Linked DNA regions of Homo sapiens. The protein of the gene in region 5 purifies or fractionates together with the protein of the main gene of each other region. This does not show direct contact. Each region holds a gene or a part of one and is shown on either strand. Other genes may lie near its edges.

Region 1 (3,500 bases), on a different chromosome or scaffold from region 5:
TCCTCAAGTTTCCAGACGAGCTTGCCCATGTGGAGAAAGCCAGCCGAGGTGGGGCAGTTTGGAATGAAGCTAGAGCCCAAAAGTCTCTGCATGGGGAGGGAAATAAGACACAGTCTAGATGTGAGAGCATTTTCAGTTCAGACTATTTCAAGTGGAAATGAGATAGGATTTAGGCATGGTGCCTAAGTCACAAGGGCAGAGCGTATGGCTGAGGAGAGATCTTTATGTGTAGAAATAGGAAGCACTCTTTCTCTTCCTAAGGAAACACCAAACACCAAAAAACAGCTAGAAAGGCAGGTGTTTTTAGTCTAGGTTAATAGTTCTTTTCATTAAGAAAACATAGACTACATTAACAAAAATTAGGCCTCACTGTCCTGGAACTAGACAAAGAAAAAGCAGCATTCACTGGAAATTGGAACAGATTTCTGCCCCCGCCTCTATATTTCTATGTATATCTCCTTCCTCCCAAACCCTGTTCTCTAAAATAAATGAGACCAAGATCTCAGGGGATTTCATAGATTCATGTTAAATTAAATGAAGTCTCTCTTCTGTTCCTAGTACTGCATACCTTGTGAAGGCTGGAGGTTCAATGATCAAATAATTTATAGTTTCACTGGAAAGATGAAAACTTAAGTATGTGACACAACTAAAGTACATAAGGAACTAAAATTATTAAGTACCAGAATGTGTGTATAGACTGAAGCTATGCTCTGAAAGGTGAAACTAAGGGGTGTTGAGGCTGGGATTATTAGTAAGCTCTTGCTGTCTGTTTTTATGGTTTTTTTTTTTTTTTTTTTTTTTAGTTTCTGCTGAAAACTTGCAAAAGAACCTAGATCAGATGAAGAAACAAATTTCTGATGTGGAACGTGATGTTCAGAATTTCCCAGCTGCCACAGATGAAAAAGACAAGTTTGTTGAAAAAATGACCATATCCTCTCTTGAAAGGAGGGAGTTGTTCCCTAGGAAGGGAAAGAAAACTTCCTGTAGTGGGGGAAAAACAGGATAGATAGGGCAGTATGCAATTTTTTTCTCTTAAAAAACTCTTTTTCTTTAAATACATAGTTTTTTGGGTTTGTTAGTATTTTGAGACAGGCTCTCTCTGTGTCACCCAGGCTGGAGTGCAGTGGTGCCATCACGCCTCACTGCAGCCTTGACCTCTTGGACTCAAACGATCCTTACCCCCTCAGCCTCCTTGGTAGCTGGGACTACAGGCATGTGCCACCAGGCCCTGCTAAACTTTTTGTAACCTTTTTTTCTTTAGAGATGGGGTCTCACTTTGTTGCCCAGGCTGCATAGTTCCTGAGAGCATTCCATTGTTGTGGAGTAGAAGCACACCATGCAGATCAACCATAAAAGTCCCACCAACTCCCCTGCCTGTACCCCGTCTCCACTACACACGCTCACACATGCTTCCCTCTCTTTCCCCTCCCCAGAGGTAACCACTGCCACTGGACTTTATTCTGATTTGCACCTCATACATTTATTTTAAACAAAAACTGCATTGTATTGTGTTTTGCACATATGTCTTGGCCATGTTTCCATAATAGTATTTATAGAAAACCTCCTTTTAGGTCAAGAGATGGAGACCATCCTGGTCAGCATGGTGAAACCCCATCTCTACTAAAAATACAAAAAAATCAGCTGGGCGTGATGGTGCGCGCCTGTAGTTCCAGCTACTTGGGAGGCTGAGGCAGGAGAATTGCTTGAACCCAGGAGGTGGAGGTTGCAATGAGCCAAGATCGCGCCACTGCACTCCTGCCCGGCGATAGAACAAAACCCTGTCTCAAACAAACAAACACAAACAAACAAACAAACAACAGTTTAAACTGCCACCTTCTTTTTTTATAGGTGTACCATAGTTCATGGTTTACTATTCCCCTATTTAGGGGTACCTACATGGCTTTGGTTTTTGCTGTTATAAACAGTGCTGTATTGAACATCCCTTTGCATGCCAGTACTCATCTTTGAGTAATTCCTTGGGCTAGAGAAGTGGGTCTGCTTCTTGGTCTTGGTCTTGGTCCTTTACTCCTTGGCTGCACAGCTTTGTGAAGGATGCACAGGAACAGTATAACAAGCTGCGGATGATGCATTCTAACATGGAGACCCTCTATAAGGAGCTGGGCGAGTACTTCCTCTTTGACCCCAAGAAGTTGTCTGTTGAAGAATTTTTCATGGATCTTCACAATTTTCGGAATATGTTTTTGGTGAGCAAGGGATACTTGCTGACTGAATCTTTTGTGGGCATTTCTCACTTTCCCCTGGGTTCCTGTTGGCTGGTAGTAGGTATACAATGCCCATGTGTTCCTTCCTCCTCTTCCCTGCCCCAGCAAGCAGTCAAGGAGAACCAGAAGCGGCGGGAGACAGAAGAAAAGATGAGGCGAGCAAAACTAGCCAAGGAGAAGGCAGAGAAGGAGCGGCTAGAGAAGCAGCAGAAGAGAGAGCAACTCATAGACATGAATGCAGGTGAGGAGTGAAGACGGGTTGATGGGCTGAGATAGGAATGTTGGGAAGACTTCTCTGCCTAGAGTCTAGAGGCAGAGTCTCATGTCTGAGCTCACCTCCTGGCAAATGATTTTTGGCAGTCTTCACTCCGAGATCCTGATGCCGGACTTTAACCCCAATTCTGATACATGCGCATTCCAACTTGCCCTGGTTAAACTATTACCTTTTCTCTCCTTTGCTCGCTCTTGCATTCTCTCTCATTCCCCTGTGATTGTGGTATTGCTGTGATATATACTGTTTTCCTTCTGTCCATCCAAAGGTTCCTCTGGCCTGTTCTCATTCCCTCCACTAAATCTTTCGGGTTTTTTTCTGTAAAATATTTTCCTGACGCTCCTCCCATCTTTTAATTGTGGCGTGTCTTCCCTTTCTGCTTATTTCACAAAGTACTATGTCCCTAGTACCTTAGCACAGTTGTATGCACAATTAGATTTTAAATGGATTGAACTTTTGGAGCGGGTGGGGAGCCGGTCACCCTCTTCTTTCTTCAGCAGAATCTCTGTTTCACTACCAGAAGCATGTCTTTGTTGAAACATATGGTTTCAATTACTGGCCCTCTGTTTCCTGTCTCTGCTTCTTTCTTGCTGCAGATTCCCTACCCCTTCGCCCCCACTGCTCTCTCTGTGGGCAGCGGAAATACAGCATACACTGCTCACACAGCACTGAGCCCATGCCACCCTCCTCTAAACCTGAGGGGCCACAAACCTTCTGCAAATGAAGAGGTGTTCACAGAGCTGCTGAGTTTGTTAGGAATCAGTATTTTACAGAGCACAGGCACAAGGGCTGCTCTGATACCTCTTGCTACCAGGGACTTTTTATACTTTTCTGTAAAGCAATTTCCTTGCCCTTAGTTGTAAGCCACAACTTCGTAATGCTATTAAAGCCCACACCAAGTATCCTTCACCTTCCCCTGGGACTCCAGGGTTTGTCCCCAGGTACTGGCTAGGATGCAGTGGGGGAAGGTGGAGTCCCGCTGACATGTGGGATGAGGGCTGCACACG
Region 2 (3,500 bases), on a different chromosome or scaffold from region 5:
AGTAGCTGGGACAAGAAAAGCATGCCACTGTGCCTGGCTAATTTTTGTATTTTTTTTGTAGAGACAGGATCTCCCTATGTTGCCCAGGTTGGTCTTGAACTCCTGGGCTCAAGTGCTCCTCCTGCCTTGGCCTCTCATAGGCATAAGCCACCGTGCCCAGCCCAATTTCACTTTAGACTCCACTGGTGCCAGCATGGGAGGTCTGCAGGACATAGAAGATTCTATTAGGATTAAATATTTAGAACAGATGTGTGATGGAGTGCTTGTTACTTTTGTATAATTTCTATTATGTTCGAATTCCACTTTTGTCTATAAGTGATCACATTCTCAAATAGCTTCAGTGGAATATTTACTTTTGAATAAGTAAGTTCATATAAACCATCCAGAAGGAATAAGGCTATACCAGTTCAATCAGTCCCAACATCAAAGACTTTTACCCTTTCACTAGAATACTTTTTGGAGAAATGTTTGTAGAATAAATAAGCATATACAATAAGCATATATATGAGTGAATATATGAAACAAAAATTATACCCAGGCCCCCAAATGTTAAGATTTTCCTACAAGAAACCCAAATGATAAGACTAATAATCTCTGAATCTATATTTTTAACAGTTTGCTATTTCCTATCATAAAGACACAAAAACCAAGGGAAGTAGTACAATGGATATCTATGAACCCAATTCCCAGTTTAAAATAGTTAACATTCTATCATGCTTGTTTGACTTCCCACACCCATACATTGAAAAAACTACCAAATCATCACATCCATGAAATTGACAGCAGTTCTTTAATATCATTCATTACTCAGTTCAATTCTCCACATCTCTTCATTATTCTTAAGATGTACTACAATGACTGGGTCATTTAATTAAGAATACTTAGTTCTTACCTGTTTACATGTTTTCCTTTCTATGGAAAAGTTGGAATGTGTGATTTACTATTTTACAACTCAAAAGATTATTTTAAAAATGTTATAGCCACTCTAAGTTTTCCTGTCAGCTCTGACTCCTGTTTCCCATTCAGAAGCAACCACACATCATTTTTCTAGTCATCCTTCTAGAAATACACACCTTTTGATTAAACTCTCAGAAAGTTTAAACAGCCTAAATATCTGACTTCTAGCTCTATCTGACATTTCAGATTGGGAAAAAGTACTAACTTTTATGGTGTGATTTCTTTTGCCCCTTCATAGCCCTTTAATGATATATTGCTCTGTACTTATTCTAAGAAAATATCAATTACTATAAGCTATGTTAAAGAGCTGGTTTATGGAACTAGCAAATAAATAGTTAATAAAAAAATATTCAACTCAAATATACTGAAATGTTCTACATAAAGTTTTGAGTTAAAATCCTAAACAATGAAAAAAAACCTGTATACCTGAATAATCTTTTGCTCTTTCTAGTGACCATTTCCTACAAATAACACACAGTTGCATATATTTTACAGTTTCAATCTTATATTTATTCTCTTGTGGAATGCTAGGTTTAATGTTACAGTATGGTTGTCAAAGCTAATGAAATGTGACAAATGTCTAAATGCTGCAGAACAGTATAATTTTAATTAAACAAAACACCTGTTATTGTACAGCTGAGGTCTGATGGTTGTTAAACTGATGCCTATGTGTATGGCCAGCCACAAACCTTGGGGATGTTTATTACCTGTACATATATATACAAATATATCCCATACATATGTATGCACACAGGCATGTATTAATTTATGCGTGAAACTTATAAAATTATATATACAAACACATACATGCACATCTATCTACATATACCTACCCTCACCATTGAGTAATCAGCCTCATGCCCAATTATTATTGCTGCCCAGTATAACTACATGATTTTAGTGCCAATACCAGGCACCTTTTTGGGTGCAGGATAGGTACATCTATGCATATAGATATGCATATTCATGTATGTTTGTGTATATAAAGAAATTCTCTCTCCCTTTTATGCTTCAGCCATGCATTACTACAATAAACAGTCTTTCCACTGTAGGTGTTGGAATTCTAAACAGTGTAAAATCTATTTCTGGAAAACTGTGTATGTTCATAGTTACAAAAAATATATTATATATATGATTGAAACCTATTGAGTACATATGTTATTTGAATCTGGCTATATCGTAGCCATTAGATAAATTAAAAAAAACCACCCTCTAAATAGGATGTTATGGTAGCCTTAAATATACCATTACCTGTATTTAGAATAGTTGATATTATATCTTAAAAGTTGAAAAAATGATGTTAAAGATTTGAAAAACACTATGCATCTGCATTAAATATATAAATGTTTCCACCAAGGGCCCGATTAAATTCATTGTCTGACATTTTCATGTTCTAAGACTGACCAATATCATAGTCATTATTCTTATATTCTTAAAATTATGGCTCATTAAGGCTTTTATAGAAAAAAAGCCCTATTTTAAATCAATTATAAAAACAAGTTCTATTTAAAAGAAAAAACATATACAAACACTAAAGTACTCATGGATATCATCCTGTACAAAGTGACTAAAGATAGGAGGCCTGTTCCCATTAAGAACACCTCCTGGTAGCACAAATAAACCTGGTTTGGTTCCTCTGCTCTGCAGCTTTTCAGCATGTAAAATTTAAACCATTTCACATTAACATTTAAATTTAATACAGTGCAAATATTTGAGAATAACTTGTTTCCCCCAGTGAAACAAGAGCCAGCATTATGCTGAATATTCTCCAGATCTATTTACACATTGAGTTAAAAGTTCACCATAAACTTAGAAATTTGCTGAATATCAGCAGAAATGTAACTGAACTAGCAGCAATTGCATTTACAATATTTGATAGTTACTTGAGAGAATGCATAAAATTTTCCAGGCTGTACTCTGAATCATACTGCTCTTGATCCCAAAGATCACTCAGGTTTTCAAGAATTGATTTCATACTTGCTTTCCCAGAAGTAGAGGTGTCAGCTTTTTCTGCTTTGCCATCCTTAAGAAAAATTGGCAAAAAAAAAAAAAATAAAATGAGAGGTTAACTTCACAAATTGTATTTTCCTTTAAAATCACACTTGTTTCTAATACAATTATTCAACAGAATTGAGTACTTCAAGTGATGGGGAAATTCATGATCTCCAAATACATTTATTTGTCAGTTTTTTATTTGGAAAGAACTTCAAAATTATGGAAGAATTATAAGAACATAACAAAGAACTTATTTGCTTTATCATTCTCTCTCCCCATTTATATATGTGTATGTATATATGGATGTCAGAAATATAGTTAGATATCAGTTTTTTCTCTGAACAATTTGAAAGAAAGTTGTAGACATCATGTCCTTTTATCCTTTGAGAGGAATCAGCATGTATTCCTAAGAACAAGAATATTCTCTTACATAACCATATAAAGATCAGATTAAGGAAATCTAACACTGATATTAAAATGTTCTAATATACAGTCTGTTTTCAAATTCTGCCAATTGTCTAAATAGTGCCTTTTATGGCAATAGGCCA
Region 3 (4,164 bases), on a different chromosome or scaffold from region 5:
TAAAAAACATATATAATTTCTCCAGGAAGTTTAAAATAGAAGAGGCAACCCAGATTCAGACTCCCAGGAATACTTGGTGACTTTAAAACACACTGATTGAAAGAATGTACATTGAGAGGAGGGGTATTAAGACAGCACGCTGGCTGGATTCCACCAATCTCTCTTAACTCTAAATCTTCCCATTCTTTTCTTTTTCTTTTTTTTTTGGATAAACTTTTTTTTTTAACTTAAAGTTTTTGGGTACATGTGCACAACATGCAGGTTTGTTACATAGGTATACACGTACCATGGTGGTTTGCTGTACCCATCAACCCGTCATCTACATTAGGTATTTCTCCTAATGGTATCCCTCCCCTATCCCTCCATCCCCCCTTCCCATTCTTTTCTAATACACTATATTTCTTCAGTGTTGTCATTGTCACTTTCCCAAACTAAAATTAGGACTAGATGGAAATGTGGACATCTCAAATTATTAATCAGGTGTTCCTTCAAATTAATATTAAAAGTATTTGTTCACCACTGATTTAGAGAAGTTGGGCAAGGTATAAATAAGGAAAAAACAGAGATGGGAGCATTACACTGCACTCGGCAAATGAAAATGAAAGGCCTTACACTCAACTAGTTCCATCCTTAGAATACAATCTGGTCATCATCTTTTGTCACTTGAACTTGACCCTGAAGGAGGGGGTCTCTGTACCCTAAGTGGCTATGCACAGCATTCCTTCCAAAGACATGGAATATGCTGCCTGAAAGAAGATCTGAAAAATACAATTGTTTCTTTCCAAATTTCCAGTAATGTTTTAAAGGTCATTATAGACCACAGCAAAAGTTATCTCACTCCTTCTTTTGGTTTTGCTTATGACAGTTCCCTACTGTAAATACCATCAAATCTAATTTGGATGGCAGTAACTGGCCCTGTTATCTACCATTTGGTCACAGAAGTCTTCAGTGTTGATTGTTGAGTGAGAGTATAGGAGACACTGAGTTAGTCTTTTTCCCTCAGTATCTTTACACTATTCAAATCTCTCACTACCTATTTTCTCAGCTGTCGAATGCAGGTAACTTCTGCTCTGCTACTTCACTTAGGATGGAAGAAGAGGAAGAAATACATCACCTATTCACTCAACAAACACTTTGAGAAAATACTAGGGAAGCCACTTATACTTCTAGGGATATAAAGATGAATACTAGAGGGTTCTTGTCCACAAAGATCTCAACATTTCACACTTAGGATACCAAAAAAAGCAGCCTATGATAGAAGAGAGGCCACTGAATTTTGAGTCAGAACGAGGCAAATATCCTGACTTGATCACTTACACATAATTAGTCTCTCCTTCATCATTGGAAATACAGGATTTTTGTGAAACATAATGTGTATAAAGGCCCTAACAATGTGCTAGCCACATAAAAAACAGTCAATAGATGGTATTTATTATTTTTGCTATGGATGAGTGTTAAAATAATAGATATGTAAAATGTAAAATGCTACAGAGCTTAATAGGGAATAGTACTGGGGGAGGAGGGAGAGGAATAAGATGATTCTTCAATTGGACCTGAATGTAAGAGTTTTGCCAGGCAAATAAATGCAGAAAAGTGCCTCCCAGCAAGCACAGTGTAACAAAGCACACAAAGGGAAAGAAATTAAAGTGTTTCTAAATGAACAAAATTGTTACAGTGTTTGCTTGTGGGTATTAGTATCTGTTCAGCAGTTATTATGTGGCAAGTACAAATTTATCTTTACAAAAACCCCTGTGAGGTAGATATTGTACTCCCCATTTGACAGATCAGAAAACAGGGGTTTAGCAAGGATAAACAACCTGCACGGTAATACATGGATGCTATGGGGTAGAGCCAAGGGAACAATCCAAGTGTGTCCGACTCCAAAGGTTATGCTCTTGGAAAATCAAACTGGAGAGAATGGCAGCTCTTATAAAGCATGCCAAGGATGTGGTCATTTATTTAGGAAACAAAGGGGAAACATTAAAGGTGTACAGGCTTGACACATTCAAAGCTGTGTTTTCAAAAGTCGTTCTGCAAAAGTGTGGGGGATGGGCTGGCACAGTTAACATCAGAAAGCAGCTAAAATACTCCTGCAATTGCTCGAGGCTATGATGAAGGCAGCAGCATCAGGAATGGAGCGGGGCTGCCCTGAGACACCTCAGAGGCAGGACAGTGGTAGTGGGCATGAAAGGGGAAGCAGAAATGCCATGACTCCTGGGTTGGTGGCTTGGATGGTGCCATTAGCAGGCTTTGGGAATCCCATTTTCACTCATGTGACGTTTGATGATGTCTGCATGTGAGACATCCAGTGGAACCTATGAACATGAAGTTCAAGAAATAAGTCTGGCGGAAGAAAGAGATTTGCAATTTAAAACCATCTTAATAGGTAAGAATAGATAGGTGCACGAAGACACGCACAGGAAGAAGGGGAAGGCCGAGAAAACAGATGCACAGGCGCTAGAAGAGACTGGCCAACATTCGCTTATTCTAAGGGTGGCCTGGCCGGCTTGAGCCCCCACGGGAAACCTGGCTAGCCGCAATCCTGGCGTGGCACGGCCCTGGGGACCCCAGGCACCGCCGACAGCCGGGCGCCCCCACCCCGCCCCCACCGGCACCCCGGCCCGGGCTTAGGCATCGTCGGGGACGCATAGGACCCTCGCCCTGGCCCCCGGGCCTCCCGGCTGCATCTGCTCACCGAGTCTAAGATCCAGCGGACACCAGGGCTGCAGGCCGCTACCAAGGCCCCGCAACGCCACCATGATCCCAGGGCACCGGCTCGCCGCCGCCGTGCTCAACTTTCAAAGCTCGCTCCCGCGCGCGCGCCGAGTCGTTCCTGTGGACCAATCACAACGTACAGAATTTCCCACTGGCCAACCACCGCGCCGAGCCGTTTCCATTCGCTCAACCAATCACCGGCGTCGTCCGCCGCACGCTCAGAGAACTGGGCGGGCCGAAAAGTGGAAGCCAAACAAGGCTCCTGCGGGTGTTCCGCTAATTCGTTCGAGAAGGAGCCAGGGCCTGAGTTAAACCCTAACAGCGTTTTTCCCGCCTCGTTTTTCTTCAATGGGGGAAAATCTAAAGGGTATCTGAGATAGGGTACTTCCGGTAGTAACTGTCACCTTTGCCCTCGTCAGGCGACATTTCGCGTGCGTGTCAAAGGGCTGCCTTTCCCGTCAGCACTCGAACAGCGTAATATCCGAATGTGAAAGGCAGCCCAACGTGTATCGAGCTAAAGTAATAAGGGAAAAGTAGCCGAAAGCACTCCGAGAAGACAAGACAACTGCAGTTCTGTAGGGACTGCGCGGCACGCGTGGGCCCAGAGCCTGTCCCAGCGAGGTAGCAGCTGCCATGCCGACCGCTGGAGCGCCGGCCGCGCTCTCCCTGCGCATGCGCAGCGAGCTCTCCTCCGGGCTGCCGGGAGTCCCAGGAGCGTTAGGGGGTGCGCCTGCGCGCCGCTGCTCCAGCGCATCCGGGCTGGAGCTCGCCCGCCCCCTCCCCCGCCCGGAGCCGCCGAAGCGCCTCGGTGCGTTGCACCGCCGGAGGCTGGGCAGCTCGCAGCGCTGCTCGGCGCTGGACCCCACCCGGCAGGCGCAGGCCACCCACACCCGGCTCTGTGCGGCTGCCCCCCGCAGCATTGCACGGCCGACCCTCGCCCGCCCACTGCCACCGGCCGCGGGACTGGCTGGGACTGGCTCGGCCGAGGGCACTGCTCCTCGGTGCATTGCTGCTCGGGCGCCGCAGCCCGCAGCCGCCAGCCTCCCCCGGCCGTGCCCCTCCCCCGTGGAGCCGGCTGTCCGTCGGCGCCCACTGCCCGGCGGCAGCGGCGGAGCCAGGCAGCCCCGCGGCGGCCGAGCGCGCTCGCGCATCGGGCCCTCTGGCCTTCTTTACCTAGGGCAGCCCGCGCCCCGGTGCGAGGGAGCGGTCCTTACCGAGACCCGCCCGGCCCGGCGGTGCGATGAGCTTCTTCGGCTTCGGGCAGAGCGTGGAGGTGGAAATCCTTCTGAACGATGCAGAGAGTAGGAAGCGGGCCGAGCACAAGACGGAGGACGGGAAGAAGGAGAAATATTTCCTCTTCTACGACGGGGAGACGGTCTCCGGGAAGGTGAGCCTTGCCCTCAAGAACCCCAACAAGCGGCTGGAGCACCAGGGCATCAAGATCGAGTT
Region 4 (3,500 bases), on a different chromosome or scaffold from region 5:
AACTACATAATTCTAACAAGGTAATATAAATGTTTTAAATGGATGGCAAAGCCACAGTAAAACATCCACCTTAGAGGAGGAACTGTTTACTATAGACTAGATTGGACAGTGAGGGCTTTAAGAAGGAGGATAACATGTTAATGAATGTATAGGATTCAACTCAGTAGAAAGGAGGGAAAGGACATTCTGGGTGAGGGGATGTAGACTTTCTAGTCTGTAGAAAGACATGAGCAACAGAACATAAAATGAATTGGAGGGCTCAGTTTACTACTATGGGTGAGTACCGAGATCAACTCTAGATGCTCCCCAGTGTTCTTGGTTTCTTGCAGCCCAGAAAGAGAGCTTCCCCACCACCCTCTTCCCCATCTTTCATATGCCACAAACCCACTGGCTTTTGACTCTTCATGTATGAGACAAGTGAGCCTTAAGTCTCCCCATCGTTCCTGAATTCTTGGCTAGAACAGCTAAAGAAACAGAAGGAAAAATGCTTTTGACTTTTGTGTTACTTCACTTTTTTTTTCAATTCGGAATTTTTGCACGCAAGTTGCTAAACTGGAAAGGGTCACTTTGTTAATACCTGTGTCTACTTTCCTGTGAGATTCTGTGGTAAAGAGCACTGCTCTGGGGTTTCCAACACATAGCCGTGCAGACTACTTTGTACCTACCTTATTATCTTTTGCTTCTATTTGTTTAGCAGATTCTTGTATTCTTCTTTGTAACTCTGTGATTGTTGTTAAGGACTTATCACATCGTTCCTTCTGATCCTTAATTTCTTGCTCAATGCTGAAATGCAGTAATTCCTTCTCATCTTTTGCAGATATTTCCTTCTTTTTGGCATGCAAAACTTCCTCACATACTTCCTCATACTTTCTATTCAGATTGGCCAATTTTTCATTTAAGCTAGAAATCTGTGTCTCCAAATCACTTTTTGTTGCTTTATATTTAGACAAGTCAACTACCTCTCTAGTCTCTAATTTTTTTAATGCTTGTTTAGTATTCTGAACCTCCGACTGAAGTTTGGAGACTTCTTCCATTTTGTTTTGGCTTTCTTCTTCCTTTTCTCTCAAGCTGGCTTTTATGATTCCAACTTCTTTCTCAAATGCTTCTTTAATCTGCAAATGCTCTGCCAGGGGTACAGAAGAGTTCTTTTGATTCTCCAACAATTGATGCAGTTTGGTCACTGTCTGCTGCTCTTTCTCGTAACACCTTTGCATACTCTTCAGTTCTTCCTTTAGATTTTCAATTGTGCCATTAAGAGATTTTTTCAGAGCCTCAACCTGTTCCAATGGAACATGTTGTTTTTGCAAAAGATTTTGCACTGCAAGTATCTCAGAAGTCTGTTTGGCATTTTCTTCTACTAGCTTCTCTTTCACATTCTTTACTTCCGTGTATTTCTGTGACAAGTCTTTTAACTGTTTGTTTAGCTCGTCTGTTTTTCTGCTTAATGCTCTTTCCATTTCATGAGACTTCTCAATGAGAACTGTCTTATCTCTCAAATCTTTCTGAAGGGTAAAAATCTCCTTCTTTAACTTGTCATTCTCTTGCTTGTTTTTCTTGACTTCTTCTTCACTGACACTATACTTTTGTGTCTGCTCTGATAACTGGTCTTTTAGTTCTTTCTCTGTTGCTTTAAATTTTCTCTCGCACTCCTCAAAGCTGACAATTGGGGCGTATTTTACCTTAATGCATTCTTGTATTGTGTCGAGCTCCTTCTTCTGGGCTTTAATTTCGGCATGCAGTGTCACAATCTCTTCTTGGCCTTTTCTGTAGTTGGCCAAGATTTCAGCATTACTATCCTGCACCTTTCTCATGCTCTGACTTAGCGAGCTCATCTTTGCCTCGTGCTCTGCCAGGCTGATGTACTCAGCTTTTATTTGGTTCTGAGTGTTTTCCAGGTTTCTTTTTAATATTTCATTCTTATCTTTTATTTTTACAAATTCCTGATTTATATCTTCAAATTTTTTCTTCACATCTAATAATTCTCTGTTAGTTTTGGCTAACGTGTCATTCAGTGTCATTTTAACCTCTTCATGGGTTTTAACTGGCACATACTGATTACTCATCATCTTCTTCAAGTTAGTGTTTTCAGATGTGAGAGCGTGTATTTTCTCCTGGTCTTCACCACATTTTTTCTTAAGTTCAGACAGCTGTTTCTTAAGTTCAACAATATTGGATTTCAGAGCTATTATCTCTTTTTCATGTTTCTCAGGAGGTACAAACACAGTTTCTAGGCGGCTTACATCCTTACTTAAGCTGTCATTTTCCAGTAGCAATTTCTCCATTTCCAACTTCTTTTCTGTATATTTTTGTGTTACATCTAAAAGCTTTCTATTAAGATCATCAATAATTGCATCATGTGACTTTTTCATGTCTTCACTTACTTTTAAAGGAACATAATGATTTTTCATTTCAATTGTTAAGTTATGTGCTTGCTCCTTGAGGAGCTTATTATCCAAATAAACTTTTTCAATTTCCTTTTGTAGTGTCTGATTTTTCAATGTTAACTCAGTGATCTTCTTCCCAAGTTCTCCTGATTTCTGTTCTAATCTGCTCTTAACCTGTTCATGTTCCTCTGGTTTGACGTGCTGAGCAAGCTTGGCCTTAACATTCTCAAGTTCTCTCTTTAACTGTCTAATTTCACTAAGTGATTTTTCATGTTCTCTTTCCATTTCTACTAATTTTTTTGCTTTCTCATTCACTTCATTTGATAATGAGCTCTTCATGTTTTCAAATTTTTCAGCTGGAATGGAAAGGGCCAACTTCGCTGACAATTCTTTTGCCTGGCCTTCCATCTCTGTGACCTTTCTTCCTTTCTTCTCTCGCTCCATTTCACACATACTAAGTTCCTTCTGTAATCGCTTATTTTCTTCTATCAGCTTGCCTTCATCCCTCTTAAACTCTTCTACTATCATCTCATTTTGTTTGATTTGGTTTCTTAATTTCCCCACTTCTGCTGAAGCACCTTCATATTTTACTTTCAAGTCTTTCAACTGATCCTTCAGTTCCTCGGTTAGTCTGTGATTCCCTGAGGCTGCTTCACTTGTTAAGTGTTCTTTAAGGGCAAGAAAATGGGTCTGCATTTGTTTAACTTTACCTTCTGACTCATACATCCTCTTCTGCACATCTTTTAATGCATCTTCTAATTGCTTTATCTGTTCATCTGAATCCTCCTTGACCCTTTCACATTCTAATGCTAAAGCTTTGCATTCTGCCACTTTGTGTGCCAGTTCATTTTGGAGCTTCAGTCGGTCTTGTTTTGCTGACTCACAGAAAGTTCGCATTGCTTCTAACTCTTTCTTTAAAATTTCATTTTCAGAGTATGACGTTTGACTGGGTAAAGATAGTTCCAGAGGTCTTAACATAGATCTGCTTTGCATATGGGCTGGTATACCTGGGGAAGTACACTGAAAAGAAAAAAAAAAAGACATCAATCACAAAAGCCTAAATGAGACATTTACTATACTTATTTGCCAAACTTAGAGAAAGTTAGCACATCATCA
Region 5 (3,500 bases):
CTTCACTTTCGGTCGGGGCCCCTGCCCCTGCCCCTGCTCTGCTCAGTGCCCCTGATACGTCCAACCCAGCGTCGCTGTGAGGGAGTCAACCACACCTGCCAGCACCCCCGAGTCTGGCCCCACTAGGAGGGGCCAGGGCTCCCTTGAGCAAGGCATCAGCACACAGGCAGGGAGCCGGGCACCAGACTGTGAGGGTCGCGCCCCGTGCACACGAGATCCAGGCCCGCCCCCTCCTGGACTTGGTGACCGTCCCGAGCTCGACCTGAGAGGGCACTTCGGCTCTCCTGTTCACAGTCATGACTGCCCCCTCCCCGAGGTCAGCGCCATGCACTGCTCTGGGGGCCTGAAACACCGCCTCTGTTCGCAAGGGTCTCCTGTCCCGTCCACCTGCCAGTGGGTTGAGCTCTTCCAGGGGTTCGGGACACCCCTCACGGCAGCACCTTCACGTTTACGAGAACTGTCTCTGTCTTGTTTTGTTTCAAGTTCTCAAAACGGAGTGAGGTGGAGGAAGCCTAATGGGAGGATGGGAGCCGGGTTTTCCCGGAACAGCCGTCAGCGTGTATGCGGAGGAAAAGAGATGACTGATGAATTTGTTAATTGCCAAAAGCTTGTTGCTGTAGCAACCGGAGGCCAGACTCGTGGCCCTGACAGCGTCGTTAGTGTCAGCAGAGACTGGAAATAAAGGAAACTCGTGTATGATACGCCTGGCGTCCTCAAAGCAAACAGCAGGCGGTGCCCAGCCCAACACAGGCACGGGCACAAGATCTGCAGATGAGGCATGGAGGGGAAGCGGGCGGTGCCCAGCCCAACACAGGCACGGGCACAAGATCTGCAGACGAGGTGTGCAGAGGGGAAGCAGGTGCACAGAAAAGGTGCGCGGAGATTTTTTTTTTTTAAGACAGGGTCTTGCTCTGTCGCCCAGGCTGGAGTGCAGTGTTGCGGTCATGGCCCAGGCTCACTGCAGCCTCCATTTCCTGGGCTCAGAGGATCCTTTTTCCTCAGCCTCCCAAATAGCTGGGACTCCAGGCATGCACCGACACTCCCAGCTAATTTGCAACCCCTCACTCTCATGTAGCAATTAAAAGTAAGCCTTTATTTCTCAGTAGAAAATATTCATTCCAGTTGACATAAAAATAAATTCGTTTAAAACTTGGACGGCAGGTATTAGGGCGTGCACTTCCCGCTACTCTGCCTTTTTTTTTCCCCCCCGAGACAGAGTCTCGCTCTGTCACCCAGGCTGGAGTGCAGTGGCGTGATCTCAGCTCACTGCAACTTCCGCCTCCCGGGTTCAAACAATTCTCGTGCCCCGGCTTCCCGAGTAGCTGGGACTACAGGTGCCCACCACCACACCTGGCTAATTTTTTGCTTTTTTTTTTTTTTTTTTTTTTTAATGTGGAGATGGGGTTTCACCATGTTGGTCAGGCTGGTCTTGAACTCCTGACCTCAGGTGATCCGCCTGACTTGGCCTCCCAAAGTGCTGGTATTACAGGTGTGAGCCGCCACGCCCTGCCTACTCCGCTTTTAAATGATGGGATGCATTGCTTTTTAAGAAAGGATCTCATGGATCCAGGGGTCCCAGTATGTGATGAAAGATGGCAGTTCCCATCTTACAGAGCGGGCTGGACTCAGAGGCAGGCCGGGGAGGGAGGGGCTGGGTACAGAGGGCAGGCTTGGGAGGGAGGGGCTGGGCACAGAGGACAGGCTGGGGAAGGAGGCACTGGGCGCCGAGGGCAGGTCAGGGAGGGAGGGAGGCTGGGCACACAGAGGGCAGGTCAGGGAGGGAGGGAGGCTGGGCACACAGAGGGCAGGCCAGGGAGGGAGGGGCTGGACTCAGAGGCAGGCCGGGGAGGGAGGGGCTGGGTACAGAGGGCAGGCTTGGGAGGGAGGGGCTGGGCACAGAAGACAGGCTAGGGAGGGAGGGGCTGGGCGCAGAGGACAGGCCGGGGAGGGAGGGAGGCTGGGCACACAGGGCAGGCCAGGGAAGGAGGGGCTGGGCACACAGAGGGCAGGCCAGGGAGGGAGGGGCTGGGCACAGAGGCAGGTCCAGGAGGGAAGGAGGGAGCGGGGGAGGGGCTGTCATCCTACGGCCCAGTGCCTGCCACCTGGACAGGACTTGGAGTTCTGGGGCCCTTGTGTTTCTCTCATGCGGTATTTCCTGGACCACGAACAGTTGGGTTCTCTGAACGAGCTTGTCGTGACTGATCGGCTGTGTGTGCCAGCCCACGGGGTTCTCTTGTCTTCTGTTGGTTCCATCTGATCAGCTGATTTTATTCCTTTTGTCTCTTATAAATGAACTGTGATTCTTCTAATACCAGCAAGAATGGTTTCAAGTTATTTCTGCGCTATAGTTTGTGTATATTAGCCTCGAGTGCATGTGTGTTACATGCGTGCTGTGTGTGCGTGCAGGTGTATCACATTACCGTGCTATAGTTTGTGTGTGAGCCTCGAGTGCATGTGTGTTATATGCCTGCTGTGTGTGTGTGTGGCTGTATCACACATAATGTGTCACATAGGTGTGTATGTTAGCTACATTGTATCTACGTTAGCTAAGAAAATATTCTTAGGGTACTCACATATGGTGACTGTCCCTAGTTTCTCTCAGTGACTTTTCGGGATTGTAACTGAAGGCTAGTATGGCTCAGTTGCCCCTAATCAGGGTAAAATCAAAACAGGCTGTGCACATTTAACCAGGCTTCCACCTCTAAGGTTGTAGCTGAGGTTCCTTGGCGCAGTGGGACGTCCCAGCACGGCACCAGGAGGGAGGGTGTCTGGCAGGACATCAGGTGGTTGGAATTTCAGGGCTCTGGGGATCTCCTGGGTGTGCCCCGATCAAGTCGGCTCACGTCACAGAAACCAGGTGCACCTGCAGCGGCTCCTAAGGAAAACCTAGTGGCACTGGCTGGTTATGCAGAGGCTCGTAAGGAAAGCCTAGTGGCACCGGCTGGTTATGCAGAGGCTCCTAAGGAAAGCCTAGTGGCACCGGCTGGTTATGCAGAGGCTCCTAAGGAAAGCCTAGTGGCACCGGCTGGTTATGCAGAGGCTCCTAAGGAAAGCCTAGTGGCACCCGCTGGTTATGCAGAGGCTCGTAAGGAAAGCCTAGTGGCACCGGCTGGTTATGCAGAGGCTCGTAAGGAAAGCCTAGTGGCACCCGCTGGTTATGCAGAGGCTCCTAAGGAAAGCCTAGTGGCACCGGCTGGTTATGCAGAGGCTCGTAAGGAAAGCCTAGTGGCACCGGCTGGTTATGCAGAGGCTCCTAAGGAAAGCCTAGTGGCACCGGCTGGTTATGCAGAGGCTCGTAAGGAAAGCCTAGTGGCACCGGCTGGTTATGCAGAGGCTCGTAAGGAAAGCCTAGTGGCACCGGCTGGTTATGCAGAGGCTCGTAAGGAAAGCCTAGTGGCACCGGCTGGTTATGCAGAGGCTCCTAAGGAAAGCCTAGTGGCACCCGCTGGTTATGCAGAGGCTCCTAAGGAAAGCCTAGTGGCACCGGCTGGTTATGCAGA
Region 6 (3,500 bases), on a different chromosome or scaffold from region 5:
CTTCTACCAGGAAGAACGATGCCTTCTTCGTAGTTTCAGGTTTTGGGAAAATGAGTTCCCCAGAATGCTGGGAGCAGAGTTGTGATTCACTCTTGCCCATTCCCTGCTGATGCCAAGCCTTGCTCAGGAACTTAAGAACCTGGTTGTGGTCGCGTTCTCTACATGAAGACACATGGGTTGCTGTCAGTGCTTCCTGAATGGTGCTTCAAACCCTGATTATGAAAATGCAGTAAGAATTGAGCTGTACAGATCTGGCATGTCACTTCCTTGGGCTTGTGTCATCAGCAGTTGTGAAGTCCCCATTGGGGACTTGGTAGCATGGAAAGCCACACAAAGATGTGCTGCATCTGTTTTTGTCTGTGTGGGTACTTTGTTTTCAATAATATTTTGTCTCCTTGCCTAATTTTATTTGTCTATGCACATGTGTGCGTGTGTGTGCTCGAATGCATGCGTGTATATGTGTTTAGGGTCTCTTCCCAGTGATCCGTAACTCACCAAAAATCACCTGTTTTTCCCAAAATTCCCTGGAGCAGTAAATTACCATTCTTAAAGAAGGATAGAGAAAGGCCAGGTGCAATGGCTGACACCTGTAATCTCAGTGCTTTGGGAGGCTGCAGCAGGAGACTAGCTTGAGGCCAGTAGTTCAAGGCTGTATGCCACACCTCCAGACTGAGCGACAGGGTGAGACCCTGTATCTTAAAAAAAAAAAAGAAGAAGAAGAAGAAGAAGGATAAAGGGAAAAGCTATGTACATAATTATTATTCTTTTTCAACAATAAAAACTTTCCAGGTAGAAGTGTTTCTAAAGTATGTTACTATAAAAATTCTAATTAAATAATTGGCTTTTGTACCTGTGAATTATTATTAACACTTTTTAATGGATGTTTCTCTCCATACTTATCTTCCAGTGGCCATAAAATGCAGTAAAAACAAATCCAGTTCCCAAGAAGCTGTACAAATGCTTTCTTCTGTTCGACTCAATTTACGGGGCTTGTTATCTAAAGCAAAGGTGAGAGTGACATGTGAATTAATTGGAATTGTCATATAGAAAAAGGTCATTAGTATCAGCTTATTGCTGTTAAATCTTCTTTTACATCAGTGATAATTTTAGGCGCATGTTTTATTTAATATAGCAGCCCCCTCATGGTTGGTTGTGTTGTGAGGATACTATTGGCCTAATGGATAGACCACTCTAAATGTGTATGACTTAAGAGTCTTTGAAATTGTCTGGGTGCAGTGGCTCATGCCTGTAATCCCAGCACTTTGGGAGGCCAAGGCAGGCAGATCATTTGAGGTTGGGAGTTTGAGACCAGCCTGGCCAACATGGTGAAACCCCATCTCTACTAAAAAATACAGAAATTAGCTGGGCATGGTTGCGGGTGTCTGTAATCCCAGCCACTCAGGAGGCTGAGGCAGGAGAATCTCTTGAACCCGGGAGGCAGAGGTTGCAGTGAGCCGAAATTGCACCACTGCACTTCAGCCTGGGTGACAGAGTGAGATACCATGTCCCAAAAAAAAAAAAAGTCTTTGAAACTAATGTTTACAATTCAGCCCTTAATGCTTTCCTTAAATTAAAATAAAACAATGCTCTTGTATTTATTGTCATTTTCCCCCAAAGTGTGGCATATATGCTACTGGTAAACTTCTGGTTTAAATATATATTCATTTCAGTACATATTAGAAAAAAAGCAGACTAGCTCATCAAGCCTATAATTTCATGAATATTATTGCTTATTTTGTATTTAAAGTTGCAATGTAATGTTTCCTTTTAGAAAGACTCTTAAGTAAAAAAATTGACTTAGATAAAAATATTAAGTAGGTCGTATATGGATGTGAGCAAAATTGTTAAGGTAGATGGCTATTGAGGTTTGACAACTGAAATACGCCATTAGTTCACAAAAACTAACTTGTGTACCAGTGCTGGGCCAGAGATGCCTAAGAATCACTCAGGGAGCTTTATTGAAGACTGGATTGATTCTTGGGCTCTATCTGTGACCGATGTAGATTCAGGTCTGGGATGGACCCAGGAAATCTGTTGAATTTCCTATGTGATTTTACTCTGCAGCCAGGTTTGGATTATACCTCTGGAAGCAAAATTTGGACAAATATAACTTCTAGCACAATTTAGCACTTACTTTTCTAGCCTTTACTTGCTTTCACTATTGCATCTTGGGTTGCAAAGTAATTTTGACTTACTTCCGAGAGTAAGTCTCTGGCACAGGGAGGCCATTTCTGAATACCTTTTTACTCTGTAACCGCCTTTCTGAGTATTTTTTTGTTCTTATTAATGGTTTGATCTTTTCAGATCAAGGCATCATTTTTGCCTCTTTAAATAATTAACTTACTTCACTTTTCCTATTTATCTGCATGACCCAGGAGAACTATATTTCCTCCTAGCTTGGCAGCACAACTTCAAAATTGTGTCTCTCGGAAATCTATAAGAGCCCCCTCAAAGTCAGAGCAGCAGGGTTTTTTCCTGTGACTTTCCTTCCCAAAGTGGGAGCTTTGTTTCCTACTTTTGATCAGTGATCTAATCAAAGTAGTTTACTTCTACTACTACCACAGTAGTTTACTTCTTCAGGGTATACTGTGGCTTCCTTTTGTCTGTGCAAAGCTTTTTCTTACAAATTACTACTTTATGTAATCTATACTTGCATGACTTGAATAGTATTGTCTGTGCAGGTACTGCACACCTTCCCATATTATGGTAGATTCCCACATAATGAAAATGCGGCCCCAGAACATCATCTGTGTTTAGATTTTCATTCTCATTAGATGCCAACTGGATTATCCAAAAATGGGAAAAATTACCTCCCAGTGCCTCCTCTGAAGCATATTTCACATATATTTGGGAGTCTCTGGTTTCGTAGATCTTATGCCTTTTCTATTTAATGAATTAGGTTTGTCAAACTGAATTGCATTCCAAAAAAGTCACTTTTTTAGAATACTTTAAAAAGTGAAAATGAAGATTGAAAATGAATGAGGATAACTATGTTAAATTGCTTGCAGCCTATGTTAAATAGGCTTAATTGAATGAATCTCAGGTCTTTTCTTGCCAGGCCAGGGACTTCATGGAAATAAGCTCCTAGTACCTAGAGACTCACCTAACAAATCATCCAGTCCATGCTCTCCCAGGACAGAGTGACTCCCCTGCCCATTTGCACCCTGTCCTTGTACAGGTTTGCTGCCAAGAGTGGCATGAAGGGGCTGTTCATGAGAGTGCTGGAGAGCCTGGACACAGAACAGATTTGACCCCTTACAGTCTTTGGGACTCTCAGCAAATTATTCACTTTTTTCTAAGCCTCAGTTTCTCCGTGCTTCCTCCTTACCCCACAGGGAAGTGATGCCGATTGATTATGATTTGCAAGCACTGTAATTCTTAGTTTAAAAACGCACACACAAAAACCAAAAAAACTATGTGAGGCTAGGTTATTTTCCTAAAAGGTGTTTTCTCTGCTGATGACATTGGAGCAGTTCCTACTTCATTTTGTTATGAAATGC
Region 7 (3,500 bases), on a different chromosome or scaffold from region 5:
TCACAAATATTTTATGTACACACTGACTCTTCTGAAAAACGTTGATTTTGTAATGTGAGGTACTAGATTGCAGAGCATATTATCAGAGGAAATGCTTCTGCCAAATTTGTTTTAACCCATCTTAACTTTCTATATGTTCTGCCCTGTATCGTGAGCAATGAAAGTGGAAATAAGCATGGTACAAACTTCAAAAAACAATGCAGCCAGGCGCGGTAGCTCATGCCTGTAATCCCAGCACTTTGGGAGGCCCAGGAGGGCGGATCACTTGAGGTCAGGAGTTTGAGACTAGCCTGGGAAACATTGGGAAACCCCATCTCTACTAAAAATACAAAAATTAGCTGGGCGTGGTGGTGCATGCTTGTAATCCCAGGTACTCGGGAGGCTGAGGCAGAAGAATCGCTTGAACCCGGGAGGCGGAGGTTGCAGTAAGCAGAGATCAGGCCACTGCACTCCAGCCTGGGTGACAGAGTGAGACTCCATCTAAAAAAAAAAAAAATGCAGCCTAGATAATGCGTAACCATATAAAACTCTGTGAAACAATTATGTCAAGAAAATTGCTGAAAGGAGTGCAGAAAGGGAGGAGCCTTAAGCTAATTGATCTACAATTAGCTATAACAGAACTCAACCCTTAAGTTGGGGAAGATAATGAACATACTGAACTATAACCTAGGCCCTCAAGGGCACAGCCATCTACATTTGAAGATTTCAATAATTCAAAAGCAAAAGTAATCAGGTGTAGGATATTACATAAATATACATCTTACATTCTTTTCTCAGAACCAATGACAAATAAGAAATCCCTACTCAAAATGAAGTTTCACTCTTGTTGCCCATGCTAGAGTACAATGGTGCAATCTTGGCTCACTGCAACCTCTGCCTTCTGGGTTCAAGCAATTCTTCTGCCTCAGCCTCCCGAGTAGCTGGGATTACAGGCGTCTCCCATCATGCACAGCTAATTTTTGTATTTTTAGTAGAGATGGGGTTTCACCATGTTGGCCAGGCTGGTCTCAAACTTCTGACCTCAGGTGATCCACCCGCCTCAGCCTCCCAAAGTCCTGGGACTACAGGCGTGAGCCACCATGCCCGGAATCCTTGCTGAATTTCTTATCAGGTATGAGACTAAAATCCATCTGGCTTTAAATGTATTAGCTAGCCCATATGGTGCCTCTGTGTGAATCAGAAAACGCAGCCCCAGGAAGACATAGTCTTGTAACTGGCACATGATTTGGTAAGTGGTGTGACCTCTGTGGTCTCACACCCTTGGTCAGGGCCCACCCATACATACCGACCTGGTCTCTGTTATACGTATACATTATTAAAGCTCACAATGCAAGTGTACAGCCTATACAAGGTCTTCCTATCTACATATAGAATCTTTGTAAACAGTTTCAGCCAGCACAATAGACTACTAAGCATTTAAGACTTTATCAGTGATTGATTTCAGAGCACATAAAACACCACCTCCATAGTTTTCCCTCCCGGGCCAAACAAAAGAAGAAAATGCCAGCTCTCTGGCTCCAACAATTATCACTCATCTATCTGTTTTGAGGAAAACTACCCAACTGACTGGGTTAGTAAATGGTCAGTCTAGAAGTTGCAGAGTGGAGACAGATTACTAGCCTAAATCTACTTGAGTCTACAGCTAGTGAAATTATTTGCCTATTGCCTCTCAGCACAATAACAGCACTAAACTGCTGTCTGGAAAGTAATAGTTACACAATTTCTTTAGCAAATCTGTGTGGAGTCTAGGCCATTTGCCCAAGTTGATTTCTCATATTTACCTACTCCACCCATCCCCAGCTCCATCACCTCATTAGTGTAGTCTGATTTTCAATTGTAAGCCCACAAACATCTCAATAAGAATAACTTCTATGTAAAGGTTTACTCACCCAATTATCCAGATTCAGCAACCTAGACTATATCAAAGGGGCTGAAAAACAAAGATAGACCAAACCGGCATTTGTTTTGAAATAAAACTAGAGCCAGTAACATAAACTTAGTTGTTGTGGTGGGGTGTGAATGTCAAAGAGTCATATGAACGCTTTATCTAGAGAAATGAAGAATAATTTTCCTTTGCCTAACTATCTACAGCATTTCCCTGAAAGGAAAATTCTTACACATAAGCCCCACCCCACTTCACAAATTGCAAAATGAAGAATTAGTGATTGCCCAACCAGTGAGTAAAGCCAAAACTAATTTGTTCTATTTTTGATGGTACATAACAGCTGTTCCAAGGAGTCTATCCACCCTTGTATAGTCAACCTTTCCAGATACTTCTACAGAATTAAAGACAGAAGTGAACTTAATTTGGGCTGAGGCTTTATGATAGCACTTTATGTGGAGTAACTCTGAATAAGATTTTACCAGTAATTTAAAGCTGTATTTGTTTAAGGAGTTCAGTGACATGTATATCAATTAGGTACACCTTAGATCAAAAATCTAATTTTTTTAGGCAATTGGTAATATTTGATTATGGAATGAATGCTGGATGATACCAAGGAATATGTTAATTTTAATTTTTAAAGACGTGACAGTATGTAGGAGTAAAATGACAAGATATCTGAGATTTGCACTAAAATACTTTAGCAAGGGAAAAATAAAGGATGGATCAAGCAAATGTTGCAAAATGTAGATAACTTATATCTGGGCAATGGATAGATGGTGGTGGTTCATTGTACTATTCTACTTTTTAGCACGTTTGAAAATTTGTTTAAGTTTTGTAAAAAAGTCTCATTAACTGGCTCATATTATGAAGTTTAAAAGTTTATTTCTTTTACTTTTAGCTTAATAACAGACCAACGAATTAAGGGTAGGTTAAAATTCCTCTTAATTTTGAGCAGATCTTTCTTTTTAAAGCCTGGATGTCTATGATATCACAGAACAACAAATAGATTTTTTAAAAAGGATTGTACCCAAAATCTCTTCTCCCTTGGGTGAGTGCCAGAACTGCCAGGTGATTGAGTCAACAGCCATTTCGGAATAATTCCTTCCTAATAAAGTGTTGGATTCCTACCTAGGCCTGCCTTAATAGCTACCTAGAAGCTTCTCACTCATTCATAGGCCACACTGTATACAGCTGGTGGCCAATATGCTGGTATGTATTTGTAGCAATGTAGCTTACTCTCCTTAAAGCAATACAGTAAAATCTTCAGTAAACCAAAGACTGTGCAAATGGTGATAAGTAAGAATTTTGTTTTCTACATTCTTTCATGAGAAAGGGACCAATACCTTTCCCTGCCAGGTAACCTCACACAAAGTCAGTTAAATACCAGAATTCAGTTGTCTGTTTAAGCTACAGCCAGAGTATATTATTTGGAAACAGACTCAACCTGATGAGGAAAATAAGTTTTAAATCAGTATGAGTTAATTTCTCTCCATTACTGACATTCACAATAAATAGCTATGTGAAAATATATCTTAATCTTTCTTTAAATGCATCAGTTTTGAGCTGTATCCCACAATGGGTGTCTTCCACAACATGCCCACTTGGATATCAAGCT

Evidence for each region.
Region 1: the proteins of CTDP1 (region 5) and DIAPH1 purify together in Homo sapiens (affinity purification with mass spectrometry; one large-scale study listed by BioGRID and IntAct). This does not show direct contact.
Region 2: the proteins of CTDP1 (region 5) and BTAF1 purify together in Homo sapiens (affinity purification with mass spectrometry; one large-scale study listed by BioGRID and IntAct). This does not show direct contact.
Region 3: the proteins of CTDP1 (region 5) and NCAPD3 purify together in Homo sapiens (affinity purification with mass spectrometry; one large-scale study listed by BioGRID and IntAct). This does not show direct contact.
Region 4: the proteins of CTDP1 (region 5) and UACA purify together in Homo sapiens (affinity purification with mass spectrometry; one large-scale study listed by BioGRID and IntAct). This does not show direct contact.
Region 6: the proteins of CTDP1 (region 5) and TTC27 purify together in Homo sapiens (affinity purification with mass spectrometry; one large-scale study listed by BioGRID and IntAct). This does not show direct contact.
Region 7: the proteins of CTDP1 (region 5) and DIAPH2 purify together in Homo sapiens (affinity purification with mass spectrometry; one large-scale study listed by BioGRID and IntAct). This does not show direct contact.

What each region holds. Positions count from the first base shown.
Region 1 is NC_000005.10:141,525,001-141,528,500, reverse strand, and holds part of DIAPH1 (protein diaphanous homolog 1), read left to right. Parts: coding exon 1-48; intron 49-803; coding exon 804-928; intron 929-2,039; coding exon 2,040-2,204; intron 2,205-2,327; coding exon 2,328-2,463; intron 2,464-3,500. UniProt on the Homo sapiens protein: Actin nucleation and elongation factor required for the assembly of F-actin structures, such as actin cables and stress fibers. Binds to the barbed end of the actin filament and slows down actin polymerization and depolymerization.
Region 2 is NC_000010.11:92,028,270-92,031,769, reverse strand, and holds the end of BTAF1 (TATA-binding protein-associated factor 172), read right to left. Parts: intron 2,981-3,500; coding exon 2,837-2,980; 3' UTR 333-2,836; downstream 1-332. UniProt on the Homo sapiens protein: Regulates transcription in association with TATA binding protein (TBP). Removes TBP from the TATA box in an ATP-dependent manner.
Region 3 is NC_000011.10:134,221,168-134,225,331, forward strand, and holds the start of NCAPD3 (condensin-2 complex subunit D3), read right to left. Parts: upstream 2,801-4,164; 5' UTR 2,760-2,800; coding exon 2,696-2,759; intron 1-2,695. Other genes in the region: VPS26B (vacuolar protein sorting-associated protein 26B), read left to right, coding at 3,956-4,164.
Region 4 is NC_000015.10:70,666,059-70,669,558, forward strand, and holds part of UACA (uveal autoantigen with coiled-coil domains and ankyrin repeats), read right to left. Parts: intron 3,405-3,500; coding exon 666-3,404; intron 1-665. UniProt on the Homo sapiens protein: Regulates APAF1 expression and plays an important role in the regulation of stress-induced apoptosis. Promotes apoptosis by regulating three pathways, apoptosome up-regulation, LGALS3/galectin-3 down-regulation and NF-kappa-B inactivation.
Region 5 is NC_000018.10:79,749,303-79,752,802, forward strand, and holds part of CTDP1 (RNA polymerase II subunit A C-terminal domain phosphatase), read left to right. Parts: intron 1-3,500. UniProt on the Homo sapiens protein: Processively dephosphorylates 'Ser-2' and 'Ser-5' of the heptad repeats YSPTSPS in the C-terminal domain of the largest RNA polymerase II subunit. This promotes the activity of RNA polymerase II.
Region 6 is NC_000002.12:32,816,550-32,820,049, forward strand, and holds part of TTC27 (tetratricopeptide repeat protein 27), read left to right. Parts: intron 1-907; coding exon 908-1,008; intron 1,009-3,500.
Region 7 is NC_000023.11:96,691,342-96,694,841, reverse strand, and holds part of DIAPH2 (protein diaphanous homolog 2), read right to left. Parts: intron 1-3,500. UniProt on the Homo sapiens protein: Could be involved in oogenesis. Involved in the regulation of endosome dynamics.